4 linked regions of the Homo sapiens genome follow. The protein of the gene in region 2 purifies or fractionates together with the protein of the main gene of each other region. This does not show direct contact. Each region holds a gene or a part of one and is shown on either strand. Other genes may lie near its edges.

Evidence for each region. Proteins that work in one complex are often made in the same cells at the same time.
Region 1: the proteins of MYORG (region 2) and RDH11 purify together in Homo sapiens (co-immunoprecipitation; one large-scale study listed by IntAct). This does not show direct contact.
Region 3: the proteins of MYORG (region 2) and ABCF3 purify together in Homo sapiens (co-immunoprecipitation; one large-scale study listed by IntAct). This does not show direct contact.
Region 4: the proteins of MYORG (region 2) and CGRRF1 purify together in Homo sapiens (affinity purification with mass spectrometry; 2 studies listed by BioGRID and IntAct, with this or other methods). This does not show direct contact.

What each region holds. Positions count from the first base shown.
Region 1 is NC_000014.9:67,682,265-67,686,071, forward strand, and holds part of RDH11 (retinol dehydrogenase 11), read right to left. Parts: intron 2,941-3,807; coding exon 2,751-2,940; intron 1-2,750. UniProt on the Homo sapiens protein: Retinol dehydrogenase with a clear preference for NADP. Displays high activity towards 9-cis, 11-cis and all-trans-retinol, and to a lesser extent on 13-cis-retinol.
Region 2 is NC_000009.12:34,366,899-34,370,398, reverse strand, and holds part of MYORG (myogenesis-regulating glycosidase), read left to right. Parts: 3' UTR 1-3,500.
Region 3 is NC_000003.12:184,188,892-184,191,851, reverse strand, and holds part of ABCF3 (ATP-binding cassette sub-family F member 3), read right to left. Parts: intron 2,924-2,960; coding exon 2,864-2,923; intron 2,765-2,863; coding exon 2,708-2,764; intron 2,598-2,707; coding exon 2,575-2,597; intron 2,465-2,574; coding exon 2,409-2,464; intron 2,296-2,408; coding exon 2,095-2,295; intron 1,998-2,094; coding exon 1,921-1,997; intron 854-1,920; coding exon 809-853; intron 730-808; coding exon 597-729; intron 1-596.
Region 4 is NC_000014.9:54,519,599-54,523,405, reverse strand, and holds part of CGRRF1 (cell growth regulator with RING finger domain protein 1), read right to left. Parts: intron 953-3,807; coding exon 813-952; intron 1-812. UniProt on the Homo sapiens protein: Able to inhibit growth in several cell lines.

The DNA of each region.
Region 1 (3,807 bases), on a different chromosome or scaffold from region 2:
GACTTCATCAAAATTTAAGTTTTACATTTCAAAAGATACCATTAAGAAAGTTAAAAGACAACCCACAGAATGAGAGAATATTTGCAAATTATATATCTGACAAGGAACTCGCATCTAGACTATTAAGAACTCTTGTAACTCAACAATAAAAAGACAATTATCCAACTTAAAAATGGGCAAAGGACTTGATAGACATTTCCCCAACAAAGAAACAAATGAACCAAAAAGCGCATGAAAGAATGTTCAACATCATTAGTAGGAAAATGAAATGAAAATAAAAACAAGATATTCCTTCATACTCACTAGGATGGCTAAACTCAAAAGGAGAGACAATAACAAGTGTTGCTGAGGATGTGAAGAAATTAGAATACTCATAGACTGCTGGTGGGAATGTAAAATGGGGCAGTCATTTTGGAAAAGTTTGGCAGTTCCTCAGCAGTTAAACACAGTTACCATATAACCCAGAAATTCCACTTCCATGTACCCAAGAGAAATGTCCACACAAAAATTTCTACACAAATGGTCACAGCAGTATTATTCAAATAGCTAAAAAGTGCAAACCCAAATGCCCATCACCTGATGAATGAATAAATAAGATGTGGCAAATCTATACAATGAAATGTTATCCAGCAATAAAAAGAAATGAAGTACTGACACATGCTTTAGCATGGATGACCCTTGATAACATTAAGCTGAGTAAAAGAAGTCAGTCACAAAAGGCCACATACCATATGATTCCATTTATATGAAATGTCCAGTAAAGGCAAATTCTTAGAGACATAAAGCAGACTAGTGGTTGCAGGCAGAAAGAAGAGCCAGTGCAAAAATCTTAAGGCTTCAATCAAAAGACTTTTATGTTCATTTCTTGATGGTGGTCTACACGGCTGCTGTTGGATCTTCAAAATGAATTAAGAATCCATAGCACAGGAAAGGCTCTTCAAAAGTCAATCCAATAGTAAGTTATGGATTTAGAGCTGACTTTCTTTAAACCACTCAGTCAAAACCAAGATAAAGGGTTATTTTTTTTTTTCTTAAAATCTCTAGGGAAGAAGAATCCAGTCACTCTTGGAAAATCAATCCAGTATACTATATAAATCTATCTTCTTATACTTCAGAACCACATTTCCAACTATCTGCTATACATTTCTACTTGCATGCCTTATAGATAACACACATGCAACATGTACAGAGCCAGGTTTGTTACACAGTGGACAACTGTTACTCTTTGGCTGAACATTCTACTTTGTTTCGGCAATAGCAACCTGATTTCCTTCTGCAGAATCACCTTTTCCCCTCAATATAGTTTGAAGAGAGCATTAATAAAGTCCCTGTTTGCCTCTAATCAAAAGAGTAAAAATGAAGGGATAGGAGGAAGGAGATCCAATGCTTCCTCCCTAGAGAATGGATGATAAGCAATACAACCTAAACACTAAAGATAGCTGGCATTCGCTCACTCTAGCAGCAATGCCCCGGCTGGCTGACTGCCACTCTGACACTTCTTAGCCTGGCTCTTCAGTCTTCCCTTTCAACCTAGGGGTCCCTCCTCTCCCTACTAATATTTTAATAAATTTCCTTCTTGCTTAAGCTAGACAAAGTCCCTTTCAACTGCTTTGGAATCCAAGAACCCTAAGTTCCACACATTACTTTTCCATGTCTGCTGTCTTAGTTAATGTCATCATCAACCTCATTCAGGCTTGAAATTCAGGTTAGCAAAGCCTCCCTCATCCCCTCATTTAATTAATCATCCAGTGATAAAAATTCTGCTGCTTCAGGGCCTCTTTCACATTACCATTCCTTTCATTACAACTTTCTGAAACTCTCTCTCTCACTAGGTTAATTATTCATTCATGAAACAAAGTTGCTAAAGCACAGACCAGATTTTGTCTGTCTACTGAAACAACTCTGGGGCTCCTCCACAAGGCTGGCATTATAGGCCTCTCATAATCTGTCTGCCTTTCTTTCCAATCTTAATGCTATTTTCAGCTACTTCCTTAAAATTTCAGGTCATTTCAACAATAACCTGAAGTAGAGGTAAAAACATGTTAAAATTTTGATCTTATGTGATGCCTGGGATTTGCTTCAAAATAATATGGGAGAAGAAAAATATGGAAAGGGGTAGAGAATGGGGATAGGGCAGAATTGGCCATGGGTTAATGGTAGCTGAGGCTCCATTATATGCAGGCTCAGTGCACTATTTTATCTAACCCTGTGTTATATTCAAAATTCTCTACATTTAAATCATTTTAAATGTCTTCGCTTATTTGAGAGGGGAGTCCATAGTATTTCAATCCTGAGGACAATAGAGAAATGCAGATTCAAATTCTTTTTTTTTTTTTTTGAGGCGGAGTTTCACCTGACCTTAGGTGATCTGCCCACCTTGGCCTCCCAAAGTGCTGAGATTACAGGCGTAAGCCACTGCGCCTGGCCTCAAATTCTTTTTAAATTCTTTTTAATGTAAAACAATAGAATTAGGAATCCAAAAAAGAATAAAGAAAACTGGACTGACATAACAAAGACAGGAAGAAAACAAACAGAATGCATAATTATCAGTATAAAAGATGGCATAAAATCAAATGTAGCAGTTATTACAAAAGAGAGTCAAATTCCCCTACTAAAAGGTAAAAACTCTAGAGTTAAAAGACAAAAGCTATATGAGACAATGTACTTTTAAAAAAGGGTATACCCAGACAAACCCAAATTATCTCCTTTGAGCAATAAATCTCATCTGCAAAAAGAGATAACATTCATACCTGAAATGATTCCCACTTAGAATCTCAAGACCTTCTGTTAAGGCACAGTGCAGGCTGGTCTGGGCTCCCTGCTGAGGAGTCTTGATGAAAAAGGAGAAAAGCCACCACATCCATCTCATGAAAGATGAGTGCCGAACCAGTTCAGATTGGACTGTGCCAGGGTGTACAGAATACGTCGTAACGCCAGAGCCTGGTTGGGGGTGGCATGAAGAGAGGGTAAGACAGGACTTGATTTTGCAGAATAGCCCAAAACAGAAAAGGATGTAAATAAGCATGTGACCTTCACATATGGACTCTTTTGCCCATGGTGACATCAGAAGTACTGCTCACAGTAATTTATACTTCCATCTCACAGATCTAAGAAGGCTCTAGAGTAGACAGTGCTAAGGACCTCTGTGTATTTCTGACTGGAAACTCAAGTCAGGAATCAGCAGAGCCAAGACTCATCCTCTCAGCAGCACTTAACATCGTTGACCACCCCCTTCTTTTTTAGAGATGGGGTCTCCCTATGTTGACCAGGCTGGTCTTGAACTCCTGGCATCAAACAATCTTCCCACCTTGGCCTCCCAAAGTATTAGGATTACAGGCATGAGCCACCACACCCACCCCATCCCCTTCATTTTTTTGAGACAGGCTTGCTGTGTTGCCCAGGCTGGAGTGCAGTGGCATGATCTTCCTTCTGCCACTGCCTTCCAGGTTCAAGCGATTCTCCTGCCTCAGCCTCCCAAGTAGCTGGGACTACAGGGGTGCGCCACCACACCAGGCTAATTTTTGTATTTTTAGTGGAGACGGGATTTCATCATGTTGGCCAGACTGGTCTTGAACTCCTGACTTCAAGTGATCTGCCCACCTCGGCCTCCCAAAGTGCTGGGATTACAGGCGCCCATCCCCTTCTTAAAGTCTTCTTTTTCACTGGCTTCCATAAGCCTATGCCACTTCTGGTTTTCCTAACCTTTCTGGCTGCTCTGTCTCAGTTTTCTGGACCAGTTCATCATCTTCTACACAAACATTAAATGTTGGAGTTCTCGTGGCTCACCAGACTCCCTCTCCATAATTC
Region 2 (3,500 bases):
TGGGGACTTGATCTTATTTAAGGTCTCCAAATAGCCCCCACCACACTTAGAACGTGTGTTTTCTTAGTGTTAGAAGCCAGGCCCTGAGTCCCCAGCACTCACCTGAACTGTGGCTGATTTGGTCCCAGTCCAGCTGGGGAGGTGTTTGGCTGACAAGGAGGCAAGAGATCCCCTCCCAGGGAACAGGAGGACTGGGCTTAGCACAGAGCCATCATCATGTTCCCAATTTGTGAAGAGACTCCTAACACTGCACTAACCCATTTGTGTACATACATGGGCTCAGCCCTGGGCCAAATGTGCCTGATGGGAACAGACTTGCAGGGCCATGCAGGCCAGACTTCGTGCCTTAACTGAAGAGTGTGCGTGTGTGTGTGTGAGAGAGAGAGAGAGAGAGAAACACGCATCATGGGTCCCTGATCTATGAAATGAACACAACCTCTCTGAGGCTGGATGATCTGGAGGAAGGGGGCATGGAGCAAATTTGAGGCTCTGATTGCTGAGCCAGCCTCCTCCCAGGCGGTTTCCCCAGGACTCTCGTAGGAAATAAATAGCCCTTTCAAGATTCCTCAGCTGCCTCACCCCCTGCACATGTGCCTGGGGTGTGGCCTAGAAGGGAGTGATGTTCTTACTCTGGTGGTCTGTGCTTCTGAACACAGGCTACATGCACACACTGACAACTACCAATAAACAGACAGGGGAAGGTCTTTCATCTCAGCCATTTTCTCTTCCCCCCGCCCCCCCTTAGATGGAGTCTTGCTCTGTCACCCAGGTTGGAGTGCAGTGGCACAATCAGCTCACTGCAACCCCTCCTCCTAGGTTCAAGCGATTGAGTAGCTGAGATTACAGGCATGCATCACTATGCCTGGCTTTTTGTATTTTTTAGTAGAGATGGGGTTTACCATGTTGGCCAGGCTAGTCTCAAACTCCTGACCTAGTGATGCACCCACCTTGGCCTCCCAAAGTGTTGGGATTACAGGCATGAGCCACCACGCCAGCCATTTTCTCTTTCTAAGAAGAGCAACCTCAGCCGGAGTGAGTTTTTTCTGACTTTGCAGCTGAGTCTGGAGAAAAGTGGCATGCCAGAGCGGGTCGGTGGGAAACAGGGTGAACTTTAGCTTCCATCAACAGCTCTGGTAGCAAAACCAGTCCCCTACCCCCTAGAGAATGCATCCGTTTCCCCACCTGATATGGTTTGGCTGTGTCCCCACCTAAAACTCATCTTGAATTGTAGCTCCCATAATTGCCATGTGTTGTGGGAAGGACCCAGTGGGAGATAATTGAAATATGGGGGCAGTTTCCGCCATACTGTTCTGGTGATAGTGAATAGATCTCATGAGAGCTGATGATTTTATAAGAGGTTTCCCCTTTTGCTTAGTTCTCATTCTCTCTTGCCTGCCGCCATGTAAGACGTGCCTTTCTGTCATGCTTGTGAGGCCTCCCCAGCCACGTGGAGCTGTGAGTTCATTAAACCTCTTTTTCTTTATAAATTACCCAGTCTTGGTTATGTCTTTATCAGCACTGTGAAAATGAACCTATACAGTAAATTGGTACCAGTAGAGTGGGGCGCTGCTGTAAATACCCAAAAATGTGGAAGCAACTTTGGAACTGGGTAACAGGCAGAGGTTGGAACAGTTTGGAGGGATCAGAAGACAGGAAAATGTGGGAAAGTTTGGGACTTCCTAGAGACTTGTTAAATGGCTTTGACCAAAATGCTGATAATGATTGGGACATGAAATCCAGGCTGAGTTGGTCTCAGATAGCGATGAGGAACTTGTTTGGTACTGGAGTAAAGGTGACTCTTGCTATATTTTAGCAAAGAGACTGGCTGCATTTTGCCCCTGCCCTAGAGATTTGTGGAACTTTGAACTCGAGGGAGATGATTTAGGGTATCTGGCAGAAGAAATTTCTAAGCAGCAAAGCATTCATGAGGTGACTTGGGTGCTGTTAAAAGCATTCAGTTTTAAAAGGGAAACAGACTATAAAAGTTTGGAAAATTTGCAGCCTGATGATGAGATAGAAAAGAAAAACCCATTTTCTGAGGATAAATTCAAGCCCCCTGCAGAAATTTGCATAAGTAACAAGGAGCCAAATGTTAATCACTAAGACATGGGGAAAATGTCTGCAGGGCATGTCAGAGACCTTTGCAGCAGTGCCTCCCATCACAGGCCTGGAGGCCTAGGAGGGAAAAAATGGTTTTGTGGGCCAGGCCCAAGGTCCCCTTGCTGTGTGCAGCCCAGGGACTTGGTACCATGCATCCCAGCTGCTCTAGTCATGGCTAAAAGGGGCCAAGATACAGCTCAGGCCTTGGCTTCAGAGGGTGCAAGCCCCAAGTCTTGGCATCTTCCACGTAGTGTTGAGCCTGCAGGTGCACAGAAGTCAAGAACTGAGGTTTGGGAACCTCTGCCTAGATTTCAGAGAATGTATGGAAATGCATGTATGTCCAGGCAGAAGTTTGCTACAGGAGTGAGGCCCTCATGGAGAACCTCTGTTAAGGCAATGTGGAAGGGGAAGCCCCCACACAGAGACCCCACTGGGACACTGCCTAGTAGAGCTGTCAGAAGAAGGCCACCGTCCTCCAGACATCAGAATGGTATATCCACTGACAGCTTGCACCATGCACCTGGAAAAGCCACAGACACTCAACGCCAGCCTGTAAAAGCAACCGAGAAGTAGGCTGTACCCTGCAATGCCATAGGGGTGGAGCTGCCCAAGACCATGGGAACCCACCTCCTGCATCAGTGTGACCTGGATGTGAGACATGGAGTCAAAGGAGACCATTTTGGAGCTTTAAGATTTAACTGCCCTGCTGGATTTCAGACTTGCATGGGGCCTTTAGCCACTTCGTTTTGGCCAACTTCTCCCACTTGAAATGGGTGTATTTAGCCAATGCCTGTACCTCCGTTGTATCTAGGAAGTAACTAACTAGCCTTTGATTTTACAGGCTCATAGGTGGAAGGGACTTGCCTTGTTTCAGATGAGACTTTGGAGTATGGACTTTTGAGTTAATGCTGAAATGAGTTAAGACTTTGGGGGACTGTTGGGAAGGCATGATTGATTTTTAAATGAGAGGACATGAGATTTGGGAGGGGCCAGGGAGAGAATGATATGGTTTGGCTGTGTCCCCATCCAAATATCACCTTAAATTGTAGCTCCCATAATTGTGGGAGGGACCTGGTGGGAGATAATTGAATCATAGGGGCAGTTTCTCCCATACTGTTCTGGTGGTAGTGAATAAGTCTCACGAGATCTGATGGTTTAATAAGGGGTTTCCCCTTTTGCTTGGCTCTCATTCTCTCTTGTCTGCTGCCATGTAAGATGTGCCTTTTGCCTTCCACCATGATTGTGAGGCCTCCCAGCCACATGGAACTGTGAGTTCATTAAACCTCTTTTTCTTCATAAATTACCCAGTCTCGGGTATGTCTTTATCAGCAGTGTGAAAACAGACTAATACACCACTCCTCTACCTTCTTTATTTTCTCAGTGTGGAAAATGCCTGATGA
Region 3 (2,960 bases), on a different chromosome or scaffold from region 2:
TGTTTGAACCCGGGAGGCGAAAGCTGCGGTGAGCCAAGATTGTGCCATTGCACTCCAGCCGGGGCAACAGGGCAGGACTCTGTCTCCGAAAAAAAAAAAAAAGGAACTCTAACTCTACAGAAAAATGCATATACTAAGGTGAGCAATACTTGAGTATTTGCTAAGTGCTGGGGACTTACTTTTCCCAAGAACCAAGTGAGGTAGATGTCAGCGCCATCTTAAGAGTTAGGAAGCTGCTTGGTAACCAAGCTAGGAAATGGCATAGTCAAGATCCGAAGTCTGACCCTGAAGCCCATGCTCTCTCCTCAATGTCTCCAGGTTTAGAAAACTCAGAACCGAGACCAATAAGGTAAAGCACTGCTTTAAGTATTTTTAAGTATTTTTAAAACACTATACACTAGGCTCTTCCTCCCTGAAGAGCAGCGCTGTGCGGCCAGAGGACAGGGCTAGTGTAAGTCCTGCAAAATCCTTAGCCCGGGCCCTCACTCCTGTTCCACAGACCTCGTCCCTTTACAGCCTGAGGATCTGGGCCAATCCACACCACACACTTAGACAGGAGAGTCCCAGCTCGCAGCACAGAGAAACAGCAGCCTTACCACACAGATGCGAGACTCGAGATCAGCAGACACAGAGAGGCGACTGAAGATGACGTGCTTCGGATCGTAGTAGAAATCCACCTCATCTAGCTGCAGAATTGGCGGCGAGAACTTCTCAAACCCATCAGGGAACCTGCAGGAGGTAGGGGTGAGGATGTGGGGGCAGCTGGAAGCAAGCAATTCCCCACCAGCCCCACTGGCCCAGCACTTACTTCATTACGACCTCTGATTCCTTGTCCACAGGCTTCAGCTCAGGCCTGGGAGAAGAGATGAGGTAGACTAGATTTATTACTTAAAAAAATAACTTCCTACACGAGTAATATATGTTCAGAGAAAACTTAGAAAGGGCTTGTACTCCTACCACTCAGGTATCATTACTTTAGAGTCCATTCTTCTCATTTACTGTATGCTAAAAAATAGAATTAGGCTTTTTGTGACTTTTTATCCCCAGTTACTATATTGTGATATGTTTCCACGTCGCAAACATCTAAGCTTTATGATTTTAAGCTTCCTGCCAGCACTTATAGAAAGGGCACTTCAAAATTAAACTCCCAATGCACATTATCATTAGTTATTAAGGCAATGCAAATCAAAACCACAATGAGCTATCACTTCACAGCCACTAGGATGGCTAAAACTAAAAAAAAAAAAGTCAATAACAGTGCTGCCAAAGACATGGAGAAATTGGAACTCTCATCCCTTGTTGGTAGGAATGTAAAATGATGTTGTTGCTTTAGAAAACAGTTTGACAGTTCCTCAAAACATTAATTTGGAATTACCAGGTAACCCAGCAATTCTGCGCCTAGGTATACACCCAAGCAAGCTGAAAACATATGTCCACACAAAAATTTGTACACCAATGTTCACAGCAACATTATTCATAATAACCAAAATGGAAACAACCCAAATGGCCCCTCATGACTCAATAAACAAAATGCTGTATATCCACACAACAGAATATTATCCAGCCACGAAAAGAAATGAAGCTCTGACGCACGCTACAATATGGATGAGCCTCACACATGACGCCAGGTAAAAGACACCAGGCACAAAGGTCATATTGTATGATTCCATTTATATGAAATGCCCAGAATAAGCAGATACGTAGAAGCAGAAACAGAAAGTAAATTAGTGGTTGCCATGTGCTAGTCAAGATTAGCCCTCCAAGAACAGTGTGGAATACTCTGCTTCCCAGCAGAGGAGGAAGTCACAGTTGGCTTCTAGCGAAGGGGAGACCTAGAATGGTAGGGCAAGGGTGGCGTGCAAATGCGGAAGGAGACGAAGAGAACAGGAGTCAGGCCCTGGCCAAGGATGCTGTACTCACAGCTTCTCCAGCATCTTGAGTTTACTCTGCACTTGAGAGGCCCTGTTGGCATTGTAGCGAAACCGGTCAATGAAAACCTGCAGGTGGAGGAGTGTAGGCATTGGTCAAATTCCCCCACTATCCCCCACTCTGGAACCCCTGGGATGGGACCCCCAGCCCTGCCAGGCCCCACACCTGGATGTGCTGGCGATACTGCTGCTGCGCCTCATATTCACGCTGCTGGTTGAGCAGCCGCTCCTGCTTACTCTTGATGAAGGTCTCAAAGTCTCCCCGGTAACCATCTAGCCGCTGGCTGTGCAGGTGGATGATGTCTGTGGCGATGGCATTCAAGAAGTTGCGGTCGTGGGAGACGACTAGGATGGTGGAGGGCCACGTCTGAGGGGTCACAGGACAGCAGGCCCGGTTTGGGAGGGCAGTCAGTTCTCAGGCCCCCAGGTATCTTGGAGGCCGCCTTTCCCCAACACACTCCAGCACCCACAGGCACTCACCTGCAGGTAATTCTCCAGCCACAGGATGGCCCTGACATCCAGCATGTTTGTAGGTTCTGGAGAAGCAGGGGAGCACACACTTGGGATTGAAGGGCTGGAGAACTAGGAACTTGGATGCTACCACCCCTGCCCATCCTAAAGTCAGGGTGCCCCATTTCAAACTCACCATCTAACAGCAGAAGATCTGGCCTATGAAAAACAATACATGGCCTGAGGTTTTAGGTCAGCAACTCATGCCACCTCCCAAGAGCTAAGACCAATCTTCCATAGGGCTTCATACACTGGCCCAGGAGACTCACCTAGCAAAGAGGGCCCGGGCCAGGGCCAGCCTCATCCTCCAGCCACCTGAGAACTCCCTAAAGAATGATGGAGTCACATTATGGGTGGGTGTTCATCAGGGCAGGAAGGGGCTGAGACAACAGGGTTCAAAGCCAAGAATGGCAAGGGTCACTCACCGGGTGGGCTGCTGCTGCATTTTAGGGGTAAAGCCAAGCCCAGCGAGAATGACTGATGCCCTAGTAGAGAAGAAATCGAAGAACTCAGTTGGAACAG
Region 4 (3,807 bases), on a different chromosome or scaffold from region 2:
CTGCAGACAACTTATTTTTCCAAGCAAGTACAAAAGCAAACAACTGCCATCTATTACCTACCATCTACAAAAGAACATGTTATATCAAAATAATTTATACCAAAATACCATAGTTTCAGATTAAATGACAATCATTCTGGCCGCGCGCAGTGGCTCACACCTGTAATCCCAGCACTTTGGGAGGCTGAGGTGGGTGGATCATCTGAGGTCAGGAGTTTGAGACCAGCCTGGTCAACATGGTGAAACACTGTCTCTACTAAAAAAACAAAAATTAGCCAGGTGTGGTGGTGCATGCCTGTAATCTCAGTGACTTGGGAGGCTGAGGCAGGAGAATCGCTTGAACCCGGGAGGTGGAGGCTGTAGTGAGCCGAGATTGTGCCATTGCACTCCAGCCTGGATGACAGAGTAAGAATCTGTCTCAAAAAAAATAAAAAGGCAATTGTTCCTCAAAAGGTTAGCAACCTTACGTTAACTGTATTTAGACATAACACATCATTTCTCACTTTACTACAGACCAATAAAAATGGCATAGTGTCCTAAGAGACTTCACTATTAACACCTGTAATACTTCATTCTACTCCTTTGTATACACATCTACCTCTGTTTACTAGGTGATAAATTCTTCAGGAGTAAAGTTTGTAACTTCTTAATCTTTGTATCTGTCATATACAGTACAGCACCTGGAACAACATAGTTGCCCAACAAATGTTTGTTAAAAGTCTAATGAAGGGAAAGAAATAGAGAAAGAAAATAAAAGGGCTAAAAAAAGAGGGCAAACAATGAGAGAAAATCTTTGGAAAACAGCCACCAACTTGTAATTGAAGCTGAAGATGGATTAGTGATCTCTAAGCCAAAAGGATTCTTGACTTGTCTCATTTGCTTTTTGAAAACTCTTGTGCTGAACTGGGTCTCTTCTGAATTTCTCAGAATTACTGGAACATCCCAACCAAACCTAAAAAAAGGTAAAAAATAAAATATTATTTTAACAAATGTTGAAACTTTATGTTATGTGTAAAATCTGTTGTGCTTCATTAGCGATTCCTTTTAGCATTAAGTGTCAGAAAGAGGTTAAATTTCTCAATTTACGTTATTTTAGAGATCCCACAGAACTGCAAAACAGTTGGCCCTCTGTATGAACCAAGTGCACATCAAAAATATTTGGGGACGAGGGGGAAGAATAAAAAATAACAATAAAAAATACTACAAATTCAAAACCAATACAGTATAACAACTGTTTACACAGCATTTACATTAGGTGTAAGTAATCTAGAGATAATTTGAAGTGTACAGAAGGACGTGTGTAGGTTATATGCAAATACTATGTAATGTTATATAAGGGACTTAAGCATCCTAGAATATGGGGGGTGGGTATCCTAGAATCAATCCCCCTCAGATATCAAGGAAGGACTAGGTATTGTTCAGCTGGCTGAATCAACACATTCTTGAAAACAAAGAGTTCTATTGTTAATACTGTTGATAACACCAAAGGAGTATGGAGATTATAGATAAATTATACTTAATTTAACAGCAAACACATGATGAACTTATTGAATTTTTTTAAATGTGAAAAAGAAATATATATTCAAGAGGCAGACTATTGGCCGGGTGTGGTGGCTCATGCCTGTAATCCCAGCACTTTGGGAGGCCAAGGTGGGAGGATCACTTGAGGTCAGGAGTTCGAGACCAGCCTGGCCAAAACATAGTGAAACCCTGTCATTAATAAAAATACAAAAATTAGCTGGGCATGGTGGCGTGGACCTGTAGACCCAGCTACTTGGGAAGCTGAGGCAGGAGACTGGCTTGAACCCGGAAGGCAGAGGTTGCAGTGAGCCGAGATCGTGCCACTGGACTCCAGCCTGGGCAACAGAGCAAGATTTCGTCTCTCAAAAGAAAAAAGAGGCAGACTAATATGATTTATGGGACAACGGAACTTTTTTTTTTTTTGAGATGGAGTTTCATTCTTGTTGCCCAGGCTGGAGTGCAATGGCGTGATCTTGGCTCACTATAACCTCTGCCTCCCGGGTTAAAGCAATTCTCCTGCCTCAGCCTCCCAAGTAGCTGAGATTACAGGCATGTGCCACCATGCCCAGGTAATTTTTGTATTTTTAGTAGAGACGGGGTTTCACCATATTGACCAGGCTGGTCTCGAACTCCTGACCTTAGGTGATCCGCCCACCTCAGCCTCCCAAAGTGCTGGGATTACAGGCGTGAGCCACCATACCCAGCCAGGACAATGGAACTTTTAAAACACCAACTATAGCTCTTCATTTATATATCTTCTACTTTTAAATTTCATGTAAAAATGTAAACTCTGACAATGCCCATGGAACAGAATTAAAAGGAAAATGAAAGGGGCTAAATTCAATTCCCAATAAAATTAAAAAACAGCTACTTTACTCAATTTACATAAAATAATCTAAAATTAATACACACCAGTTAAACTAGGAAATTTTAGTTAAAGACGGCACAGTTAGGAGCCTATTTGATGCACTCCCTTCTCTCCAAATACATATCAGTGATAGATAAAAAAGAAAAAGAAAAATTAAAAAGACCCCACAGATACCTGAGTCCCATATGCTTTAAGAAAAAAGAAAGACTCCGCTGAAATGAGTAAACAAACTGTGGTATATTTAAAGAAAAGAATAGAAGTATTCAGCAGTGAAAAGGAACAACTTATTACTACAATCAAATGGATAAATTTCAGAAACATCGTGCTATGCAAAAGAAGCCTTACACAAAAGAATAAATGCTGTATCCTTCTCTAATATAAAATTCTAGAGCAGGCACAACAAATTTATGGTAGAAATAAAAATGAGAACAATGGTTGCTTCCGGAAGTACAGGAGTAGGACTGACTGGGAAAGAGCATAAGAAAATTGACGGTAACGTTCAGTATCTTGACAGAGGCTTAAGCTGTATAGATGATGTGTTTGATAACACTTGGTAAATGGTACACTTAAGATTTGTACATCTTGGCCGGGTGCGGTGGCTCACACCTGTAATCCCAGCACTTTGGGAGGCCGAGGCGGATGGATCATGAGGCCAGGAGATCGAGACCGTCCTGATTAACACAGTGAAATCCCGTCTCTACTAAAAATACACACACACACACATACACACACACACACAAATTAGCCAGGCGTGGTGGTGGGCGCCTGCAGTCCCAGCTACTCGGGAGGCTGAAGCAGGAGAATGGCGTGAACCTGGGAGTCTGAGCTTGCAGTGAGCCAAGATCGCGCCATTGCACTCCAGCCTGAGCGACAGAGCAAGACTCCATCTCAAAAAAAATAAATAAATAAAAAATAAGATTTGTGTATCTTATATGTAAATGTTACTTCAAAAAACTATAAACGAAAACAAACACTGAACTCTAATCAGTAATATGTAATGTTTTAGAACTTACAGGTGAAGAGTACAACTCACTTTGAAGGGCATCGTGAAATAAGATAGACCAATGTATGGATAAAAGAGTGGATTAATGTGGACAGATATGTAATAGAGAAATTACAGTAAAATGCTGATTGTAGAATCTAAGTGATGGGCAGATGTGTGTTCACTGTGTAATTCTTTCTAGTATTCTGTATGTTTGAAAATTTTTATAATAAAATGCTGGGAACAAATACCTTTATGGATCCAAAAAAAGCAAAGAAACAAAGTAATGAGTAAGGCTATGCCATGGTTTCATGGTTCTCAGTCTGGCAGCAGACAGTGGCAACCAAGCCTTCATGTACTAAGGAGACCAGCATAGGCTGTCTTCTCCAGACAAGGGCCAGAGCCAGGTTTATAACTTGGAACCAGGAGCTGGATT